Regions from separate parts of the Homo sapiens genome. Here region 1 is linked to region 2. A link means that fine-mapping ties the variant in region 2 to the expression of a gene that starts in the linked region. Tissue or cell type: whole blood. Region 2 holds a variant in brackets; the other region holds the start of a gene. All regions are shown on one strand. Distances are from middle to middle.

Region 1 (9,142 bases), 68 kb before region 2:
AACAGAACCAGAATAGTGGCTCTACATTACACGCATGGCTTCCATGTTGAAAGACAGTGAGACATGGCTGGGCGCAGTGGCTCATGCCTGTAATACCGGCATTTAGGGAGGCCAAGGTGGGCAGATCACTTGAGGTCAGGAGTTTGAGACTAGCCTGGCCAACATGGTGAAACTCTGTCTCTACTAAACATACAAAAATTAGCCGGGCATGGTGGCAGGTATCTGTAATTCTAGCTACTCAGGAGGCTGAGACAGGAGAACCACTTGAACCTGACAGGCAGAAGTTAGAGTGAGCCAAGATCACGCCATTGCACTCCAGCCTGGGGGATAGAGTGAGACTCGTCTCCAAAAATAAAAAATAAAAAATAGAAAAAGAAAGTGAGATATAAAGGAAACAATAACATATGTTTTTTGTTTACGTAAAATCCAAAAATGGATGAAAAGAATTCATGGTAGTTTTTTCCATATCAGCTAGGTAATGTGCCAACATCATAGCAAAGTTTGAGGAAGGCACAGGTCATACATGAGCATGAAAACCCAATCATTATGCCTATGAACTACAAAAGAATCAAAGAATCTGTGGTTTTAAAAATCAGAATAGCCAGGCACGGTGGCTCACACAGCACTTTGGGAGGCTGAGGCAGGTGGATCACGTAAGGTCAGGAGTTCGAGACCAGCCTAACATGGTGAAAGCCCGTCTCTACTAAAAATACAAAAATTATCTGGGTGTGGTGACGGGCGCCTGTAATCCCAGCTACTCCGGAGGCTGAGGTAGGAGAATTGCTTGAACCCAGGCGGTAGAGGTTGCAGTGAGCTGAGATCGCGCCATCACACTCCAGCCTAGGCAACAGAGTGAGACTTCATCTCCAAAAAAATAAATAAATAAATAACTAAATATATATATATATATATATATATATGGAATATAATTTTGTATTTAAAATGTACAATACAATTTATACTTACACGTATCATCTTACCACTTGCTTTTTTTGCTTAATATTTTATTTTAAAATTTATTCACATTATTTCCCCAGTTATTAAGGGTGAAAAACTTAGAGCATGAAAAACCAATATGTACTTACAATAAACTGATTTTCAAGTTGGCAATATTATTTGCAGTGGTAAAACCTGCATCATTGAGGGTTTCCCACTTCAGGATTAAATTGTGCCAATCAGCCGCATTGTCCTTAATTTTTCTTGCACTGACAGATAAGACAGGTTTTCTGGGCGTTACAGTTCCAAGAGTCTTTGCTGATAGGGTATAAAAGAAACAAAATTATTATCATGGAATATACAATCATAGTTGGAGGGCAAATGTCCTTATAATTTTCAACAGTAAAACTATCTGAAATGCTGTATCAACTGGACAAATAAATGTGGAAACTACAAAGTCTGAATGAATGTGAAAGTTCCTGGAAGAAGACAATATAGAATATTTTTAACATTTTAAAATTCACCAGATAGAGCTGAATCCTCTTCCAGCTTAATGGCTCCACAAAGTTTTTACCTTAAGCCCTTTGTTTTCCAAAGATTGGAAATAAGGTAAAGTTGTGACTGTCTGCTAAAACTCTTCAATGGCTCACGTTCCCTTCCCTACAGGATAATCTAGCCCTGACTCCCGAGTACTTCCACTATCTAGTCTCAGGCACTCTGATACTTTAAATTTGCTCAGAGTAGCGTGGCCCATGAGTGCTAATCATTTCAAGACACTGAGACAACAGAGATGCAGAGTTGATCACGATGCTGCCACTGCCCTTCTTGGTAATCAGGAGGAAGTCCAAAATCCTTCCAGACCTAGCTACCCCTCCACATCATCACGTACATCAACCCACACCTTGGCCCCCCGTCAATATCCAGCGAAAATGAACTACTGGCAGCTCTTGAAAAGCTGAGGTGCCTGCAGGCCTTTACACGTGTTCTCTCTGCAGGAAAGCTCCTTCCTTCCTCAGGCTCACGATGCCCATCCTCCAAGATGCACCCGGATCCCACTGCCTGTAGGAAGCAACCCCCAGACCACCAAGAGCCAACTCAGGTTGTTTGTTCTCCCCGAACCCTCCTGTGCCCTCTTGCCTTCTCTACTTTGAACCCCACAAAGGCTTCTCACTGCCCACAGGATAAAGTCCTCTTGAGGAATCCAGGACACACAACAGCTGGATGGTTTGATGCCTCAAGTCAGAAGACCACACTGCCTGCGTCTGAACCCCAGCTCGCCAGCTGTGAGATCTTGGGCAACTTAATGTACCTTTCAGAGCCTCAACATTTTCATCTGTAAAATGGGAATAAAAATAGTATCTATTTCATAGGATTGCTGAGATTAGATAATATATGTGAAGCTGTGAGGCCTCGCACAAGGCAAAAACCCAGTATCTCACCTGTTAGCTCAAGGGCCTCTACTATCCAAGCTCTGCCCACCACTTCAGCTTCTACCCTTTCCCACTTGCCCTCTGTGCATCAGAGCTGGCTCTGTACAAGTTCTGACTTTGACCTGGAATATTTTTCCTATCTGTGTGTGTCCCCACTCCCCTGCCTCATACTTAGTATCCTCACTTTAAAATATCATCTTGATTTATCATTCATTCTTTACTTAAACAACAAATATTTGCTTACTGCCTACAATACGCCAGGCATGGGGGAATGAAGTGATTGAATGAGACGGACCAGGACCGTTTTCATGGAACTTACTTTCCAAAGGGGAGGCAGATAATAAACAAATGACCACGATCAGTTCAGATCATGATTAAGTGTGTGTGGAAAATAAAACAGGGTCTTGTGTTAGTGTGATCCCCTGAGAAGGTGTCGTTTAGGCTGAGATTTGAATGATGAAAAGCCAGAAATAGGGTAGGTCAGTAGTATGTGCCCTAATTATGATAATGAGGTTGGTGAGTTCAAAAAACAGAAAACAAAACAAAACAAACAAGCAAACAAAAAAACCAGTGTGCTGGAATGAAATAGACAGAAAAGGACTAGTGCGTGAGTAGGTGATCAGACAACTAGAACCTAATAGGCCAAGATAAGAAGTTGGACCGAGGGCAGTGGCTCACGCCTGTAATCCCAGCACTTCAGGAGGCCAAGGCGGGCGGATCACGAGGTCAGGAGATCGAGACCATCCTGGCTAACACAGTGAAACCTCATCTCTACTAAAAAAATACAAAAAATCAGCCGGGCGTGGTGGCGGGCGCCTGTAGTCCCAGCTACTCAGGAGGCTGAGGCAGGAGAATGGCGTGAACCCGGGAGGCGGAACTTGCAGTGAGCCCAGATCGCGCCACTGCACTCCAGCCTGGGTGACAGAGCGAGACTCCGTCTCAAAAACAAAACAAAACAAAACAAAACAAAACAAAATAAAAAAATGAAGTTTGGACTTCTAAGTATTAGCTTGGTGCAAAAGTAACAGATTTTGCCATTACTTTTAACAGCCAAAATTGCCATTACTTTTGCACCAACCTAATACAATGGGGAGTGAGCAATGAGCTCTGGATAGGGCAGTGAAATTATCTGATTTAGGTTTTTAGAAAGTCATTTCCACAGAGAAGTATTCCTGGATCCCCCAGGTTGGGTTACGACTCACCACTAGATATGTGGTACACCCTATAATTCTGCTATCATGATATTCACCAGTGGAGTGTATTTGCTTGTTTAATGTCTATATTCCCTGCTAAACTGGAAATTCGACTAGGGTAGGAACTATGTCTCGTTCTCTTTCAAACCTTCCACACATAGGAGGCTTTGCATAAAATGAGGTAAATGGAGGAATAGCTCTTACCACCTGTTCTATAATTGTCTAAGGGTTTTCCCCCCAACAGGAGATTCTGAGGGCAGGATCACATCTGATTCATGGTCAGCCTGACTCATACGGGGCACATATTTAGGAACCAAAAACATAACTGACTTCAAGAAACTCAAGGGCTGGTAAAGACAGACCAGTCATCAGCGTCACAGGACAGGGTAGGGTGAGGGCACAGTGGCTAAGTTACTTATCCCCTCTGAGCCTCGATTCCCCATCTGCAAAATGGGGTTGACATTACTTCATGGGACCACTGTGAGGTTCAAATGAGATGATCCACTTAAAGTGCTTGGAGCAGTACTCAGCAAACTGAGCACTAGGCGAAAGCCAGCTTTCATTACAAGCAGAATGTTCTGACTGAGGGCAGTTCAGAGAGGAGTTTCTGGACGAGATGAGCATGCAAGGCTTGGTACCCAGTGAACTCTGTTAGTACTAATTTATAGTGACAATAATTACAATTTGGATGTCGGATCTGCTGACACTCATTTGCGTATATCGTCCCGTTCATCTGTCACTGCACATGTGAAAAAACGGAGGCTCGGCAAAACTGTCTCCCGAGCAGCTCGCAGAGGCTGCGAGGGGCCTGCGGGCTAGGCTGGGGTAAGACAGAGGACCTCCATTTAACCTCATGTAATCCGGGGAGCTCCTGAGCTTCTGGTCCAACCTGCGGCCTAAGCAGTAACATTCACAGCCACCCCACCCCGGGAAAGGAACCGATCTCACGCACCTTCCATAAGGTCCACAGATATCCGTAGAAGGAGACGCGAAGCCCCGCCCACCCCACCGGAAACGCATTTGCGTCACGTCCGCCCCGCCCGCTGCCACTTGTGGCTCTGCCGCTCTAGCCCCCGGCGGAGCCAGCTGCTGCTCTTCGGTGCTGGCCCCGGTGCCGGCCCCGTTGCCCAGGGAACAGGCTCCCGGCAGCCCCCGCGGCCCGGAGTCCATCCCGCCTCCTCCGGCCCGGCGGGGCCGACGAGTCCGGAGGGGCTGCCGCGGGAGGTGAGTCCGGCGACGCCGCAAGCGGCCCCGACGCCCCCGACGCCCCCGACGCCTGGCCCCGAGCCCCTCCTCGGCCTCCCCCGGGCCACTCTTCCCTTGCCTCAGCCCCGCAGGGTCTCCATGCCCGTCCGCCCCGTCTCCCTCGCCCGCGGTCTCGCCCGCGCGGAGTGGCGGACACTAAATGCCACAACACACGGAGCGCCTGGCTCGCCGCCCGCAGAATCCGGCGGTCCGCAGCGGGGAACAGGGGCCGCCCGCCCCTCCTCAGGCCTCCGCTGCGCGTCCCGCGCCCTCGGCCCCCGGCCCCACCCTGCATCCCGGCTGCCGGTCTGGCCGCGGGCTCTGCTCCTTCGCCTTAAGATTGACGTCGTGTTCTGTCCCCCACTCGCAGCCCGCGTCCCTTACATCCGCCCACCGGCGCCTGGCCCCAGGCCTTGACACTCATCCAGTTGGTGTTCAGTGTTCGATGAGTGGATAAGTGAATGACTCCTTTCCCAATCCTATTTGAAGGCATGGGAGGCAGAATAGGTAGTAAGTGTTAAAGGATGGGGTGTCCTGGAGTCAGAGCCGGGCAGGTCCCAGCGGCCCCTTCCTAGCTCTGTGCTGGGGCAAGTGCCCTACCTCACTCCGCTCCAGTTTCATCACCAGTGGAATGGAGATGAGAATAGTTTCTACCTCTGGCTTGGTAAGAGGATTAAATGGGTCAGTGCATGTAAAGTTAAGCACGGTGCCTGCCGCTGTACATTTCAGTAAAGGGGAGCCCCTGCTGTCATCTGTGCTAGCCTGCGTTCTCGCCCTCTAGTCCCTTCTGATATGTCTCTGACTTCTCATGACTTTAGTTTCTCCTTCTCTACCTCCATTTCTCTTCCCTGCACTTTTTTCTTCCTCTCTTATTGGGATTCAGGAATTTTATTCTGTTCTGTGACTTATGTTCCATGTGTTGGCAGAATGTGGGATACCAGCCTGGGTGCATCCTTTTCTCATCTATTGGAGTGACCAGTTGCACTTGTGGACTGCCTCCTTGCAGCCAAGGTCTTGTAGACAGAGTTCTGGGAAATCTCAAAACGCAAATCCCAGGCATAGGTAGAATCTGGGAATGAAGCCACTGTAGCTCCTTGTGATCACCAGCGATTCCTGGTCTTTTAGGCTGCAGGACTTTGTGTTTTCTCACACCCAGCTATAATGTACCTTGATAAACCTCTGACCTTATTTTTGTTGTTGTTGTTGTTAACCTGACTTACGTCCCATATTGGTGGTTATTTGGCCATCGTGTGCCAGCACTGTGCCAGGCTGGCTCTAGGGATGCTGTGGTGAACCAGACAGACCCTTCCTGAGGTCACTGCCTCAGAAAGATCATGGTCTGGCCCATGAACTTTAAAAGGGAGAACTAAGTGCAGGTGTAGGGGACACACAAATTGAATTTTCAGGACTGCCTTGGAAAACCAGTGGTGGGGAAGATGGAATGAGGATAACCCTCTTCTGAAGGAGTGACTAGGAAGTAGCTTTTGTTAGGCATCAGCTATATTATACCCACGTGTCTTTTTCAATAGAAGACTGGCATCTACTGGATTTTTTTTTCCAATTTTTTCTTAAAGAAGTTACACTTAAGTTTGGGGAGAATTTCATTTCATATTAGCCGCTGTAGGAGTTGAAAAAAATGGCTACTGGAACTTAGTGGGAAGAAAAGGAAGGAAACAGGCATCAGGCAGAGGCAGTTGATTGAACTTGGGAAGATGAGGAATAGATCAGGAAAGGGTTATAATGAAAAGCTTTGGTGTCAAGCACGAAGAGATTTCTAGATTCAGTAATGCACAGAGAGATCAGTAAAATTAGAAGGGAGTAGTTGATGGCTTTGCGAATTGCTAAGGTAGAAGGGAGCTGTTACTCAAGATGCATGTTCAATTTAAAATGAATGTATTCTTTGGACCTGGACATAAGAGTTCTATTGACTTTTTGCCACTATTTTATATTTAGGGCTGTCATACTTGGGTGAATCTAGCACAGTGCTTTGAGAGAGAGATTCATTCAACAAACGTGTATTGAGCATTGATTGTACCATACTCTTTATTGGTCTTTTAAAGCACCACAAAGTATACAGACTAGAAGAACATAGGTGAAGATGAGAAAGAGTCCATTGAAGGGGAGAGAAAACAGATAATGATGGTGCTGTGCGATAACTGCCATCATGGAGTTCTGTGAAAGCAGAGAAAGACCAACCAAGTATCTGAGGGAATTTATGAAGGCTTCCTGGTGGCGGAGGACTAGTTCTTACAGGGCACATGTGGGGGAATAGGGAAGAGTGGAAAGGGACTTTGTTCTGCAGAGACATACAGGTTATGGTGTGTGCAGGGACTGTGATGGAAAGCTGATGGATGCACAAACAAAACGTGGCCTGTCTACACAATGGAAGGCTGTTCAGCAATAAAAAGGAACGAAGTACTGATTTGTGCTACAACATGGAGGAACCTTGAGAACATTAGGCTAAGTGAAAGCAACCAGACACAAAATACCACATATTATATGATTCAATTTTGATGAAATCTCCAGAATAGGCGAACTGTAGACAGAGAGGAGATCAGTGGTTGCCCAGGGCTGAGAGAAGAAGCGTGTAGAGGGGTGATTGCTAAAGGGTAGGGAGTGCACAGTGTGTGGATGGAAGAGTGGCCTGAGATGAAGTTAGATATAGACTGTTTTGTCATAGTGTCTAATTTCCATGCTTGTGTTAGGCTTTAGCTTGTGACCATTGGGTAGCCAATGGGGATGGGAGCAAGGAAGTGACAAAATTTTGTCTGGAAGATAAATGACTGCCTCAGTCTCATTACGTTCCTCCTTAATAATTTAATACTCAAATAATTAATAGATGTCGTAGCCAGATTTCAAACATAGATTCTACAATAGGGATACAAATTGTTGCTTCCTAGGGATTTTGGAGAGAATCCTGAAACCATTAGTGTACCCAGAGCACTCTGATAACATGGTTATTGTACAGCGAAGTGGATGACTTAGACTCTATATTAGTCCTAGCTCCAGTTTGAGAAATCATCCATCTGGGTGGCAGTTGGGTGTTAGTAGTCAGCAGTGAAGGCTAGCTGCCACCTTCCAGGGTTATGAGATTGACAGGGCTAGTGGGGAAAGGAAGCATCGTAACTTGAAGGATGCCATAGGGTGGTGTTTTGTATTTTTTTAACTGAAATAGTCATGACTAAGGAAGCATTATTCATTATATTTTTATTTATTTATTTATTTTTGAGATGAAATATCACTCTGTCACCCAGGCTGGAGTGCAGTGGCACGATCTTGGTTCACTGCAGCCTCCACCTCCCAGGTTCAAGTGATTCTCCTGCCTCAGCCTCCCAAGTAGCTGGGATTACAGGTGTGCGCCACCACACCTGGCTAATTTTTGTATTTTTTAGTAGAGATGGGTTTCGCCATGTTGGCCAGACTGGTCTCGAACTCCTGGCCTCAAGCAATCCTCCCACCTCGGCCTCCCAAAGTGCTGGGATTACAGGCGTGAGCCATCATGCCCAGCCCAATTTTAAAAATTGGATTGAGACTATTGTTTTGCAGTAAGACCTGAAGTTAACAAATCTTTACTGAGCATCTACTCTGTGCCAAAGCTATTATTAGATACTAGGATTTACCTTGGTAAGCAAGAGAGAATTCATGTTGCTTACATTCTTGTAGGAGAGATGATTTTTAAATGGTTTAGCAAATAAAGCAATTAGAGGTTGTAATGAGGATTATGAAGCACATATGATAGAGGAAAGAAGGGACAGTTGGGTACTCTTGAGTGATCTGGTCAGAGAAGGCCTTTCTGTGGTGGTGATATTTAAGCTGAGACCCCACAGTTGAGAAGAAGCCAGATAAATGGAGTGAGATCATTTATTCTGCATAGAGGAAATAATTATGACACCTGAGTGGGACAGAGTGGGTCAGTGGAGCTAGAACTTGGAGGACAAGTGGAGACGGGTAGAGAGGTGACAGGGGAGCTGCAAAGGGCTTAGACCACACGGGGCATTTGGTTTTTATTCTTAGAGCACTGGGCAACCAGTGAGGAGTTTTGAGTAGAATGGGTAGTATGGTCTGATTTCTCTTTGAAGGAGCTGATATTTTCCTTTGTTTTTTGGGGGGTAACAGCTTTATTGAGATATAATTTACATGCCACACAGTTCACCCATTTATATACAATTCAATGGTTTTTACTGTATTCACAGCTATGCAACCGTCACTACGTCAATTTTAGAACTTTCTCATCACCCTAAAAGGAAACTCCGTACCCTTCAGCAATACACCCTAACCCCTTCTTCTCCCAGCCCTGGGCAACCACTGACCTACTCTGCCTACAGCTTGCCTATTCTA
Region 2 (10,369 bases):
TGTTGTTGTTGTTGTTGTTGTTGTTGAGAAAGAGTCTCGCTCTGTCACCCAGGCTGGAGTGCAGTGGCATGATCTCGGCTTACTGCAACCTCCACCTCCCAGGTTCAAGCGATTCTCCTGCCTCAGCCTCCTGAGTAGCTGGGATTACAGACGCATGCCACCACGCCTGGCTAATTTTTGTATTTTTAGTAGAGACAGGGTTTCACAATGTTGGTCAGGCTGGTCTTGAACTCCTGACCTCGTGATCTGCCCGCCTTGGCCTCCCAAATTGCTGGGATTACAGGCGTGAGCCACCATGCCTGGTTTTTTTTTTTGTTTTTTTTTTTTGAGATGGAGTCCTAGTATGTCACCCAGGCTGGAGTGCAGTGTGCAGTGGTGCAATCTGGGCTCACTGCAACCTCCACCTCCCGAGTTCAAGCGATTCTCCTGCCTCAGCCTCCCAAGTAGCTGGGATTACAGGTGCGCACCACCACGCCTGGCTAATTTTTTTGTATTTTTAGTAGAGACAGGGTTTCACCATGTTGGCCAGGCTGGTCTCGAACTCCTGACTCAGGTGATCCGCCAGCCTCGGCCTCCCAAAGTGCTGGGGTTACAGGCGTGAACCGCCGCGCCCGGCCGCCACTTGGTTTTTTTTTTGTTTTTTGTTTTTTATTTTCAGTTTTCTTTACTTAGCAATATATCTTGGGCAAATTTCCAACATCATTAAAATCATGGTAGGAAATAATTTCTGCTTAAACCAAGATGATAACAGATTATCATCAGAGACAGATTTAGAAACTTTAAACAAAGCTGTTTAGTTTCAGTTTCTCCTTGTCTTAAGAGCAGAGCTTTTGCTCTTTTTAAAATAAACTCCCTGCCTTACCCTCCCGACTCCTCACCCCCAGACTCTAGACCAGGCCCTGTCCTGTTCACGTTCTTCCATTCTGAGCTCAGCGGGCCTCTGACAGGCACCCCTTTCTTTTATAAGCAGAGCCTCACTGTAGAAAATAAACAGTTTTCAGCCAGGCGCAGTGGCTTACGCCTGTAATCCCAGCACTTTGGGCACTTTGGAAGGCCGAGGTAGGTGGATAACCTGAGGTCAGGAGTTCAAGGCCAGCCTGGCCAACATGGTGAAACTCCGTCTCTACTAAAAATACAAAAATTAGCCAGGCATGGTGGTGGGCGCCTGTAGTCCTGGCTACTCGGGAGGCTGAGGCAGGAGAATTGCTTGAACCTGGGAGGCGGAGGTTGCAATGAGCCAAGATCACACCACTGCACTCCAGCCTGGGTGACAGAGCAAGACTTCATTTGAAAAAAAGAAAAGAAAGGGTTTTCTTCTTTGGTGTGTGTCAGCAGAACATGAAGTTCATCTTCTCCTCATTGAAGTTTTATGAATTATTATCAGCCGTACCTGGTAACACTGGTTTGGCAGAAAGAAAACTGGCCCGGGGTGGGGGGCAGAACTAGACTCGACTCTTCTAGCCTGGTTCTGCCTTTAACCAAGAGTCTCTTATCGGCCGGAGCCTGGTTTGTTTTCCTGTAAAATGGGGTGGGGGTGGAAGAAGCATCGACTTAGGGGAATCACCAAGGTGCCTTGAGTTTGTTCATTTTATAAGGGATATTCTGAAAGGTATTTTTGCACCCTTTCCTCAGTTACAGAGAACTTCTTTCCCTGGATACCTTTTGAACTTATGTGCACTTATTAATTAGTAGCATCAAGATGCTTTGTAACTGTGCATTGGTTCTTTCATCTGAGCATTTACCCGATGCTTTACCCAGTAGGTATAATTAACTTCATTTTATAGGTAGAGAAATGGAGACAGGGGACCGTCTGGGACAGATGTCACAGTCACCCTCAGAGACTGGACCACCCAGTGGCAGCATGACTGGCAGCTTTCGGAAACAAATGTTATGTTTGCAGCAGTCCATCAGTTATTTAAAATTAGCCAAAAACATAGACTCTCCTTCTACAACAGACTAGTCTCTTTATTTGCACTGTCTACAGCAAAGCAAGGACTTGCTTTAAGTCAGTGTGGGCTCAGGATGTCCTGTGTTTTGTTGCCACCCACTTTCAGATAATGCTGGAGGAACCTCCCCTCCCTTCATGTATTCATTCAAAACCCATGAGTTGCAGTGCGCACTGGCCTCTCCTGCAGGAATGCACACAGTAGGGGGACTAGACGTGTCTGCACGTTATTTCAGCCCAGGAGTGGGGCGTCAAGCGGAAGTTTGGATGAGGTGCTGCAAGCCCTGAGAGCCCTGGGTGTTGCAGCAGAGGGCAAGCTTGTCAGAGGCTGCTTCTCACAGAGGTGGCGTCTGGAGAGAACTGGAACTTCCCCAGCAAACATGGATAGGAAAGGAATTTGAGCAGAAAGAGAAGCACGTGCATTCACCATGGAGGAACAGGGCTGGGACTGGGCTGGCAGGGCCGGTGCACCTGCAGCAGGGACGAGGGCAGGGTGGTACGTGGGTCGGAGATGACCGAGGCCCCACCATGCCAGGGGACCCCTCAGATCCTGCTTACCAATCTGTGAGATGTTACCTAACTTTGGATTGAATTGGAATTTTCAGAAAGTTACCATAGTAAAGTGCAGTTATCATTTGACTGATTTGGACTCTCACACATGCATTTTTATGCTTTGAGCTGTTACCGTTGTTTAGTTTTGTGTTTTTTGTTTTTTTTTTTTTTTTTTTTTTGACAGGCCACAGTTGCTGGTTTGGAAGGATCCGGTGATATTGTGTCTGTTTCGTGCACAGAAAATGAAATATTTTTCTTGAAAGGAGATAGGAACATTATAAGAATTTCAAGCAGGCCTGAAGGATTAACATCAACAGGTTTGTATTTATTATAAAATGTACCATGTATATGATGGGAAGTACTATACTCTGTTGTTTGTAATTGCAGTTAATAATTGATCAAACTTACCATTGGGCCAGGCATGGTGGCTCACGCCTGTAATCCCAGCACTTTGGGAGGCTGAGGTGGGTGGATCGCTTAAGCTCAGGACTTTAAGACCAGCCTGGGCAACATGGTAAAACCCTGTCTCTACCAAAAATACAAAAAACTAGCCAGGCGTGGTGGCATGCGCCTGTGGTCTCAAGTACTCGGGAGGCTGAGGTGGGAGGATCGCTTGAGCCTGGGAGGCAGAGGTTGCTGTAAGCTAAGATTGCACCACTGCACTCCAGCCTGGATGACAGAGTGAGACCTCATCTCAAAAACAAAACCAAAAACTTACCATTATTTTGCTAAACTATTGCAACTTTATTTGAACTTGGAGGATTTGGAGGGTTTCCTCTGATTCTTTTTTTTTTTTTTTGAGATGGAGTTTCGCTCTTGTTGCCCAGGCTAGAGTGCAATGAGGCGATCTCAGCTCACCGCAACCTCTGCCTCCCAGGTTCAAGCTATTCTCCTGCCTCAGCCTCCTGAGTAGCTGGGATTACAGGCATGCGCCATTATGCCAGGCTAATTTTGTATTTTTAGTAGAGACAGGGTTTCTCCATGTTGGTCAGGCAGGTCTCAAACTCCCGACCTCAGGCGATCCGCCTGCCTCCGCCTCCCAAAGTGCTGGGATTAAAGGCGTGAGCCACTGTGCCCGGCCGCTCCTCTGATTGTTAAAATAGCATTTACAGTACATTTCTTGAAAGTCACCTACTTTAAGGCTTACATCAGATAGTCTCACATTTAGTGGAGTTGCTTTCATGGTTGTGGAAGATGGGGAGATTGAGAAAGGAGGAAGGAAAAATCAGAAACCACTTTACTGATCCCTGCTCTCCGTCTGAGACAGTATGTGGGATTAATGCTCCAAAAGACATAGATTTGCATAGAGTTTTAGAATATTTAAATCTGTCATCTGGGACATACCGTTTACCCTTAACTCAGTTCTTCCTTGTAGGATTTATTTTTCTCTGTGCTTTTGACATTTTTTGGTAATTCATACAAGCCCAAATTTTAATGAGCAAAGAATCCTAATATGTGTCCTCTTGCGGACATCCACATGCTTTATATATTTGGGTTCCTCGGGGAACTTGTTCCTCATGGTGGCAACAACAGCCATGTGGACCCCATCACCCTCCTCCTCACTACCATTACCTCTGATGTCAGAGAGGGCAAATTGGGGTGAATATTCCAAAACATAATTTGTATAAGAAGTGAATAAGCTCTGACTCTTGAGTTTATGAGCTGGGGGCCCCTCAGACAGTGTCATCAAAGGGTTAGAATGGCTTTCAGGAAGGGTGGTGACTTGGAGCCACCAGGCTAAGCTCTGGACCTCTGCTGCCCATAGAGCTTTCTGCAGTGATGAAGATGCTCCCATCTGCCCTGTCTGGTAGGCAGTCCCTGTCCATGTGTGGCTGCTGAGTACTTGCAATATAGCAAGTGCAGCTGAGAGATGAATTTTACATTTTGTTTAATTTTTATTTTATTTTATTTTATTTTTTGAGACAGAGTCTTGCTCTGTATCCCAGGCTAGAGTGCAGTGGTGCAGTCTCTGGTCACTGCAACCTCCACCTCCTGGGTTCAAACGATTCTCCTGCCTTAGCCTCCCGAATAGCTGGGATTACAGGTGTGCACCACCACACCAGGCTAATATTTTGTATTTTAGTAGAAAGGGGGTTTCACCATGCACCATGTTACCCAGGCTGGTCTCGAACTCCTGAGCTCAGGCAGTCCTCCCACCTTAGCCTCCCAAAGTGATGGGATTACAGGCATGAGCCACCGCGCCCAGCCTAAATTTTGTTCAATTTTGATCAATTTGAATTTCAATACTTACAAGTAGCTGGTGGCTGCCTATTGGACAGGGAGCTCTAGGCAAGATCTGCCATTAAGTTATGTAATCTTCAGCAAGTCGCTTCACAGCAGAGTCCTCCCCTCCAGTCTCCAGTGTACACTTCATTGCCTGCAGTCTGCCCCTAACACATGCCCTCAATAGAATGTGGGTGCTTCAAGGGCAGGAATTCCTGTGTCTTATGGACTGCCATGTCCCAGCAGCTAGCCCTGTGTCTGGCACACGGAGGATCCCCGATAAAGAGAGGATGGCGAATGGATCAAAGTGGGCTGTGGTCTTGTGTTGAGGGTACTGTAGCTGGAACTGCTCTGGCCTTGTGCCCTGTGGTGTCGTGTTGCAGAAAAGATGAGTCCACTGCAGTGGGAAGCTCACTGGCCCTTGGGCTTGGGGACAGGAGACAGGTACTCACATGCCTGTTCTCACTCTGCGGTCTACTGGCCTTGATGCTGTGTGGTAATGGACTTCTCTGTCTTGAGTTTGTTCTAATGGAAAATTACCTTTCCCTCTTCCAGGAAACTTAATTACAGGTACACATGTATTTTTCAAATGCCCTTTGAGTAATCTTAAAGTATATTCAAGGCAGAGTCTTAGTATGAAGTATAACTAAGCTGTTTTGTTATACACAGGCATCTCTCATTTGTAAATAATTTGTAAATTGAAGCGAGAAATGCTGTATTCTTAGTATTTTTTTACTTTTTTTTTTTTTTTTTTGAGACAGGTTTCACTCTGTCGTGCAGGCTGGAGTGCAGTGGCATGATCTCAGCTCACTGCAACCTCCACCTCCCAGGCTCAAATGATTCTCCCACCTCAGCCTCCCAAGTAGCTGGGACTATGGGCGTGCACCACCACACCCTGCTAAATTTTGAGACTCCGTCTCAAAAATAAATAAATAAATAAATATAAAAAGAAAGCTATGGCAAATTATTTTACTGATTTTAATATATGAGCTTCTTGAAGAACAAAAACTGTTTCTTAGAGTCTTTTGTATGATTCTTTTAGTTTTGGTGGATTTTTTTTTTTTTTTTTTTTGAGACGGAGTCTC[A/G]CTGTGTTGCCCAGGCTGGAGTGCAGTGGCGCAATCTCGGCTCACTGCAAGCTTTGCCTCCCAGGTTCACACCATTCTCCTGCCTCAGCCTCCCAAGTAGCTGGGACCCCCGGCGCCCGCCACCATGCCCGGCTAATTTTTTGTATTTTTAGTAGAGACGGGGTTTCACTGTGTTAGCCAGGATGGTCTTGATCTCCTGACCTTGTGATCCGCCCGCCTTGGCCTCCCAAAGTGCTGGGATTACAGGCGTGAGTCACCGTGCCCATCCTAGTTTTGCTGGTTTCTATGAATTTAGAATCATTCAGTTCTTTAGCTGGCTGGTGCCTCTGTGACAACTGGTATTTAGGGCTAGCAAACGTGGATAAGTGCACATCAGCTCTCTCTTGGATCACCAGTGGTAAAACCAGACTCTTCTTTCTTAGTGAGAGATGGTCTGGAGATGTCTGGATGCTCAGAGCGTGTCCACGTGCAGCAAGCGGAGAAGCTGCCAGGGGCCACAGTTTCTGAGACGAGGCTCAGAGGCTCTTCCATGGCCAGCTCCGTGGCCAGCGAGCCAAGGAGCAGGAGCAGCTCGCTCAACTCCACCGACAGCGGCTCCGGGCTCCTGCCCCCTGGGCTCCAGGCCACCCCTGAGCTGGGCAAGGGCAGCCAGCCCCTGTCACAGAGATTCAACGCCATCAGCTCAGAGGACTTTGACCAGGAGCTTGTCGTGAAGCCTATCAAAGTGAAAAGGAAGAAGAAGAAGAAGAAGACAGGTACCCTCTGTAGCTGGCACACACCCATCTGGGGTTACAGTCTTTCCAGATTCTCTGGGAGTGCTGCTGCTCACTGAGTGAGCAATGCTCCATACATCCAAAAGCAGAGAACACATACATTTCTTCCCCAAAGGAGTTTTACTGCAAAATACTTCACATTAACGGAAAATACACACACACACACACACACACACTGTAAGGTCTAAATGATGACAGAACACCTGTGTGTACTCACCACCCTGCTTAAAGGGTCTCAGTTTTGTACTTTTCAATATTTATTTATGTATTTATATTATTTATTTATTTTTTGCGACAGAGTTTCGCTCGTCGCCCAGGCTGGAGTGCAATGGCACGATCTCGGCTCACTGCAACCTCACCTCCTGAGTTCAAGCAATTCTCCTGCCTCAGCCTCCCGAGTATGCATGCCCAGCGAATTTTGTATTTTTAGTAGATACAGGGTTTCTCCATGTTGGTCAGGCTGGTCTTGAACTCCCAAACTCAGGTGATCTGCCCGCCTCGGCCTCCCAAAGTGCTGGGATTACAGCGTGAGCCACCGCGCCTGGCATAGTTTTTAGTATTTAAATTAAAATGTCGGGGCCGGGCGCAGTGGCTCATGCCTGTAATCCCAACACTTTGGGAGGCCGAGGCAGGCGGATCACGAGGTCAAGAGATTGAGACCATCCTGGCCAACATGGTGAAACCCCGTCTCTACTAAAAACACATAAATTAGCTGGGCTTGGTGGCATGTGCCTGTAATCTCAGTCACTCGGGAGGCTGAGGCAGGAGAATCACTTGAACCTGGGAGGCAGAGGATGCAGTGAGCCGAGGTCACGCCACTGCACTCCAGCCTCGCAACAGAGCAAGACTCCGTCTCAAAAAAAAAAAAAAAAAAAGTGTTGGTTTATCCATGTATACCATTGATTAAATCAGAGATTCTGTGAGCCTGGGTGGAAAGTTGTGGAAACCAGAAGATCTATGCTGGTAAATACTTGGGACATTTTATGTTTAGTGTTGAATATGCTACCAAATATGGGATTTAACATTGAATTTTTTTCTTTTTTTTTTTCAACTTTTATTTTAAATACAGGGGGTCCATGCGCAGGTTTGTTACATGGGTATACAGCACCCAGGTAGTGAGCACAGTATGCAGTAGGTGGCTTTTGACCCATGCCGCCTCCTCTCCCGCTCTGGAGGTCCACAGTGTCTGTCCTTCCCATGTTTATGTCCATGCGTGCTCAGTGTTTGGCTCCCACTTACAAGTCAGAACATGCTGTTGGTTTTCTGTTCCTGTTGCATTAATTTGCTTAGGATTACGGCCAGCGGTTCCATCCATGTTGCTGTAAAGGACAAGATTTCATTCTTTATTTTTATTTATTTATTTATTTATTTATTTATTTTTTAATTTATTGGAGACAGAGTTTCACTGTTGTCACCCAGGCTAGAGTGCAATGGTGCGATCTCGGCTCACTGCAACTTCCGCCTCCCAAGTTCAAGCAATTCTCCTGCCTCAGCCTCCCGAGTAGCTGGGATTACAGGTGCCCACTACCACGCCCAGCTAAGTTTTTGTATTTTTAGTAGAGGCAGGGGTTTACCATGTTGGACAGGCTGGTCTTGAACTCCTGACCTAAGGTGGCCCACCCGCCTCGGCCTCCCAAAGTGCTAGGATGGCTTATGAGCGTGAACCACCGTGCACAGCCCAGATTTCATTCTTTGTTATGGCTGTGTAACACTGAATTTTTCAAACCTTTTACTCCTTGGTTCCTGTTAATCCTCTCTAGCTAAGATGACTGCAACACTGAAGGAAATGTTATTAGATTTCTAAGCATTTTAATAATTATAAGGAATTGGTTTGTGACCCAGGTGAACATCTCAGTTTGTCCCCTGGTTTTTCTTAGCTGCCCTCAAACCCATGGATTTGTTCAGTACTTGCATGCATAGAAAGCATCTCTTTGTTGGGATTATTTGTACTTAAGAGGTTTATTCTTCATTCACCAAATATCCTTTATTTAAAATTTTTTTTCTTGAGCCAAAAATATGTGTGCAAGTTAGTCTCTTACTAATCATATAGAACCGTGCCTTATTTTGAATGTTCTTATTCTGAATTAGAAGGTGGAAGCAGGAGCACCTGTCACAGCTCCCTGGAATCGACACCCTGCTCCGAATTTCCTGGGGACAGTCCCCAGTCCTTGAACACAGACTTGCTGTCGATGACCTCAAGTGTCCTGGGCAGTAGCGTGGATCAGTTAAGTGCAGAGTCTCCAGACCAGGAAAGCAGCTTCAATGGTGAAGTGAACGGTGTCCCACAGGAAAATACTGACCCCGAAACGTTTAATGTCCTGGAGGTGTCAGGATCAATGCCTGATTCTCTGGCTGAGGAAGATGACATTAGAACTGAAATGCCACACTGTCACCATGCACATGGGCGGGAGCTGCTCAATGGAGCGAGGGAAGATGTGGGAGGCAGTGATGTCACGGGACTCGGAGATGAGCCGTGTCCTGCAGATGATGGACCAAATAGCACACAGTTACCCTTCCAAGAACAGGACAGCTCTCCTGGGGCGCATGATGGGGAAGACATCCAACCCATTGGCCCCCAAAGCACTTTTTGTGAAGTCCCCCTCCTGAACTCACTCACTGTGCCTTCCAGCCTCAGCTGGGCCCCAAGTGCTGAACAGTGGCTGCCTGGGACCAGAGCTGATGAAGGCAGCCCCGTGGAGCCCAGCCAAGAGCAGGACATCCTAACCAGCATGGAGGCCTCTGGCCACCTCAGCACAAATCTCTGGCATGCTGTCACTGATGATGACACAGGTCAGAAAGAAATACCCATTTCTGAACGTGTCTTGGGGAGTGTGGGAGGACAGCTGACTCCGGTCTCTGCCTTGGCAGCCAGCACTCACAAGCCCTGGCTTGAGCAGCCTCCACGGGATCAGACATTGACGTCCAGCGATGAGGAGGACATCTATGCCCACGGGCTTCCTTCTTCATCCTCAGAGACGAGTGTGACAGAGCTCGGACCTAGTTGCTCCCAGCAGGACCTGAGCCGGCTGGGTGCAGAGGACGCCGGGCTGCTCAAGCCAGATCAGGTATGTGGGTTCGGGTGGTGGGAAAAGTAGCTGAGGCTTCTTTCTTAAGGGTAATAATTGTCAAGACTGATTATTTTCCTTCTCATGGAAAGAAATTCTATTCCTACTGCAAAATCCGTAGGCCAACTCTGTTTTCAAGTCTGGGTTTCAGGGGATTTCCAGCACAGGGACTATGAATGGCTTGAACTACTTCTGACCTGTTCTACCCTGCTCAGTAACCTGCCTCCCCAACCAAGGTAGCGTCTTGCTGTTTCCTCTGACCCCACAAGTGCAGGCTGGTGTAGGCACTTACTGTTAGCCATCGTAGGGCAGGGCTGAATTGGCCTGGGGCCATCTCAGAAAACCAGTGGGCAGAGGACTGTCCACCTGTGGAGTAGAGAAAGCTCTGAGCAGTTTGGAGGCAGGGAGTCTCCTGTCCTTCTCCTCACACCCCTCCAAGGAACCATCTGCAAGAGCACGAGGCCATTTCCAGAACTGCTGTCTCCTCAACCTCCGAACAGTGGCTCCAAGGCTCCCCTGCGAGCTGTACAGGAACCAGTTTGGAGTAACCAGTCTTTGTAGGTCCACCCAGCACATGTAACTAGGAGATGACTTTTAACTGTCCTTGAGCATTTTATATTAAAAGTGATTTTTTTAAAAGTGCCTACTTCCCTTAGCAAGTAATTATTACTAGATATATTTGTTTCAAAACTGTGTCTTGCCCTGTCTCCTACTAACTGTCGATGT

Evidence for each region. PIP is the estimated chance that this variant, and not a neighbour inherited with it, causes the effect.
Region 1: it holds the start of TECPR2, and the variant in region 2 is fine-mapped to the expression of TECPR2 in whole blood (TOPMed, PIP above 0.99).

What each region holds. Positions count from the first base shown.
Region 1 is chr14:102,358,334-102,367,475 of GRCh38, forward strand. TECPR2 (tectonin beta-propeller repeat containing 2) reads left to right here and starts at 4,608. Exons shown (of 20, transcript NM_014844.5): 1 at 4,608-4,783. It overlaps CINP (cyclin dependent kinase 2 interacting protein), which reads right to left and starts at 4,557. Exons shown (of 5, transcript NM_032630.3): 1 at 4,512-4,557; 2 at 1,086-1,254. The coding sequence starts at 4,518. LOC124903427 (small nucleolar RNA U13) reads right to left here and starts at 569; the gene lies at 466-569. RefSeq lists silencers at 4,602-5,011, 5,052-5,141.
Region 2 is chr14:102,425,569-102,435,937 of GRCh38, forward strand. TECPR2 (tectonin beta-propeller repeat containing 2) reads left to right here. Exons shown (of 20, transcript NM_014844.5): 7 at 2,682-2,814; 8 at 6,228-6,560; 9 at 8,667-9,643. Among named protein-coding and RNA genes, the nearest start is that of TECPR2, 68 kb to the left of the region's middle. The variant A/G (reference allele first, on the strand shown) is at 5,806.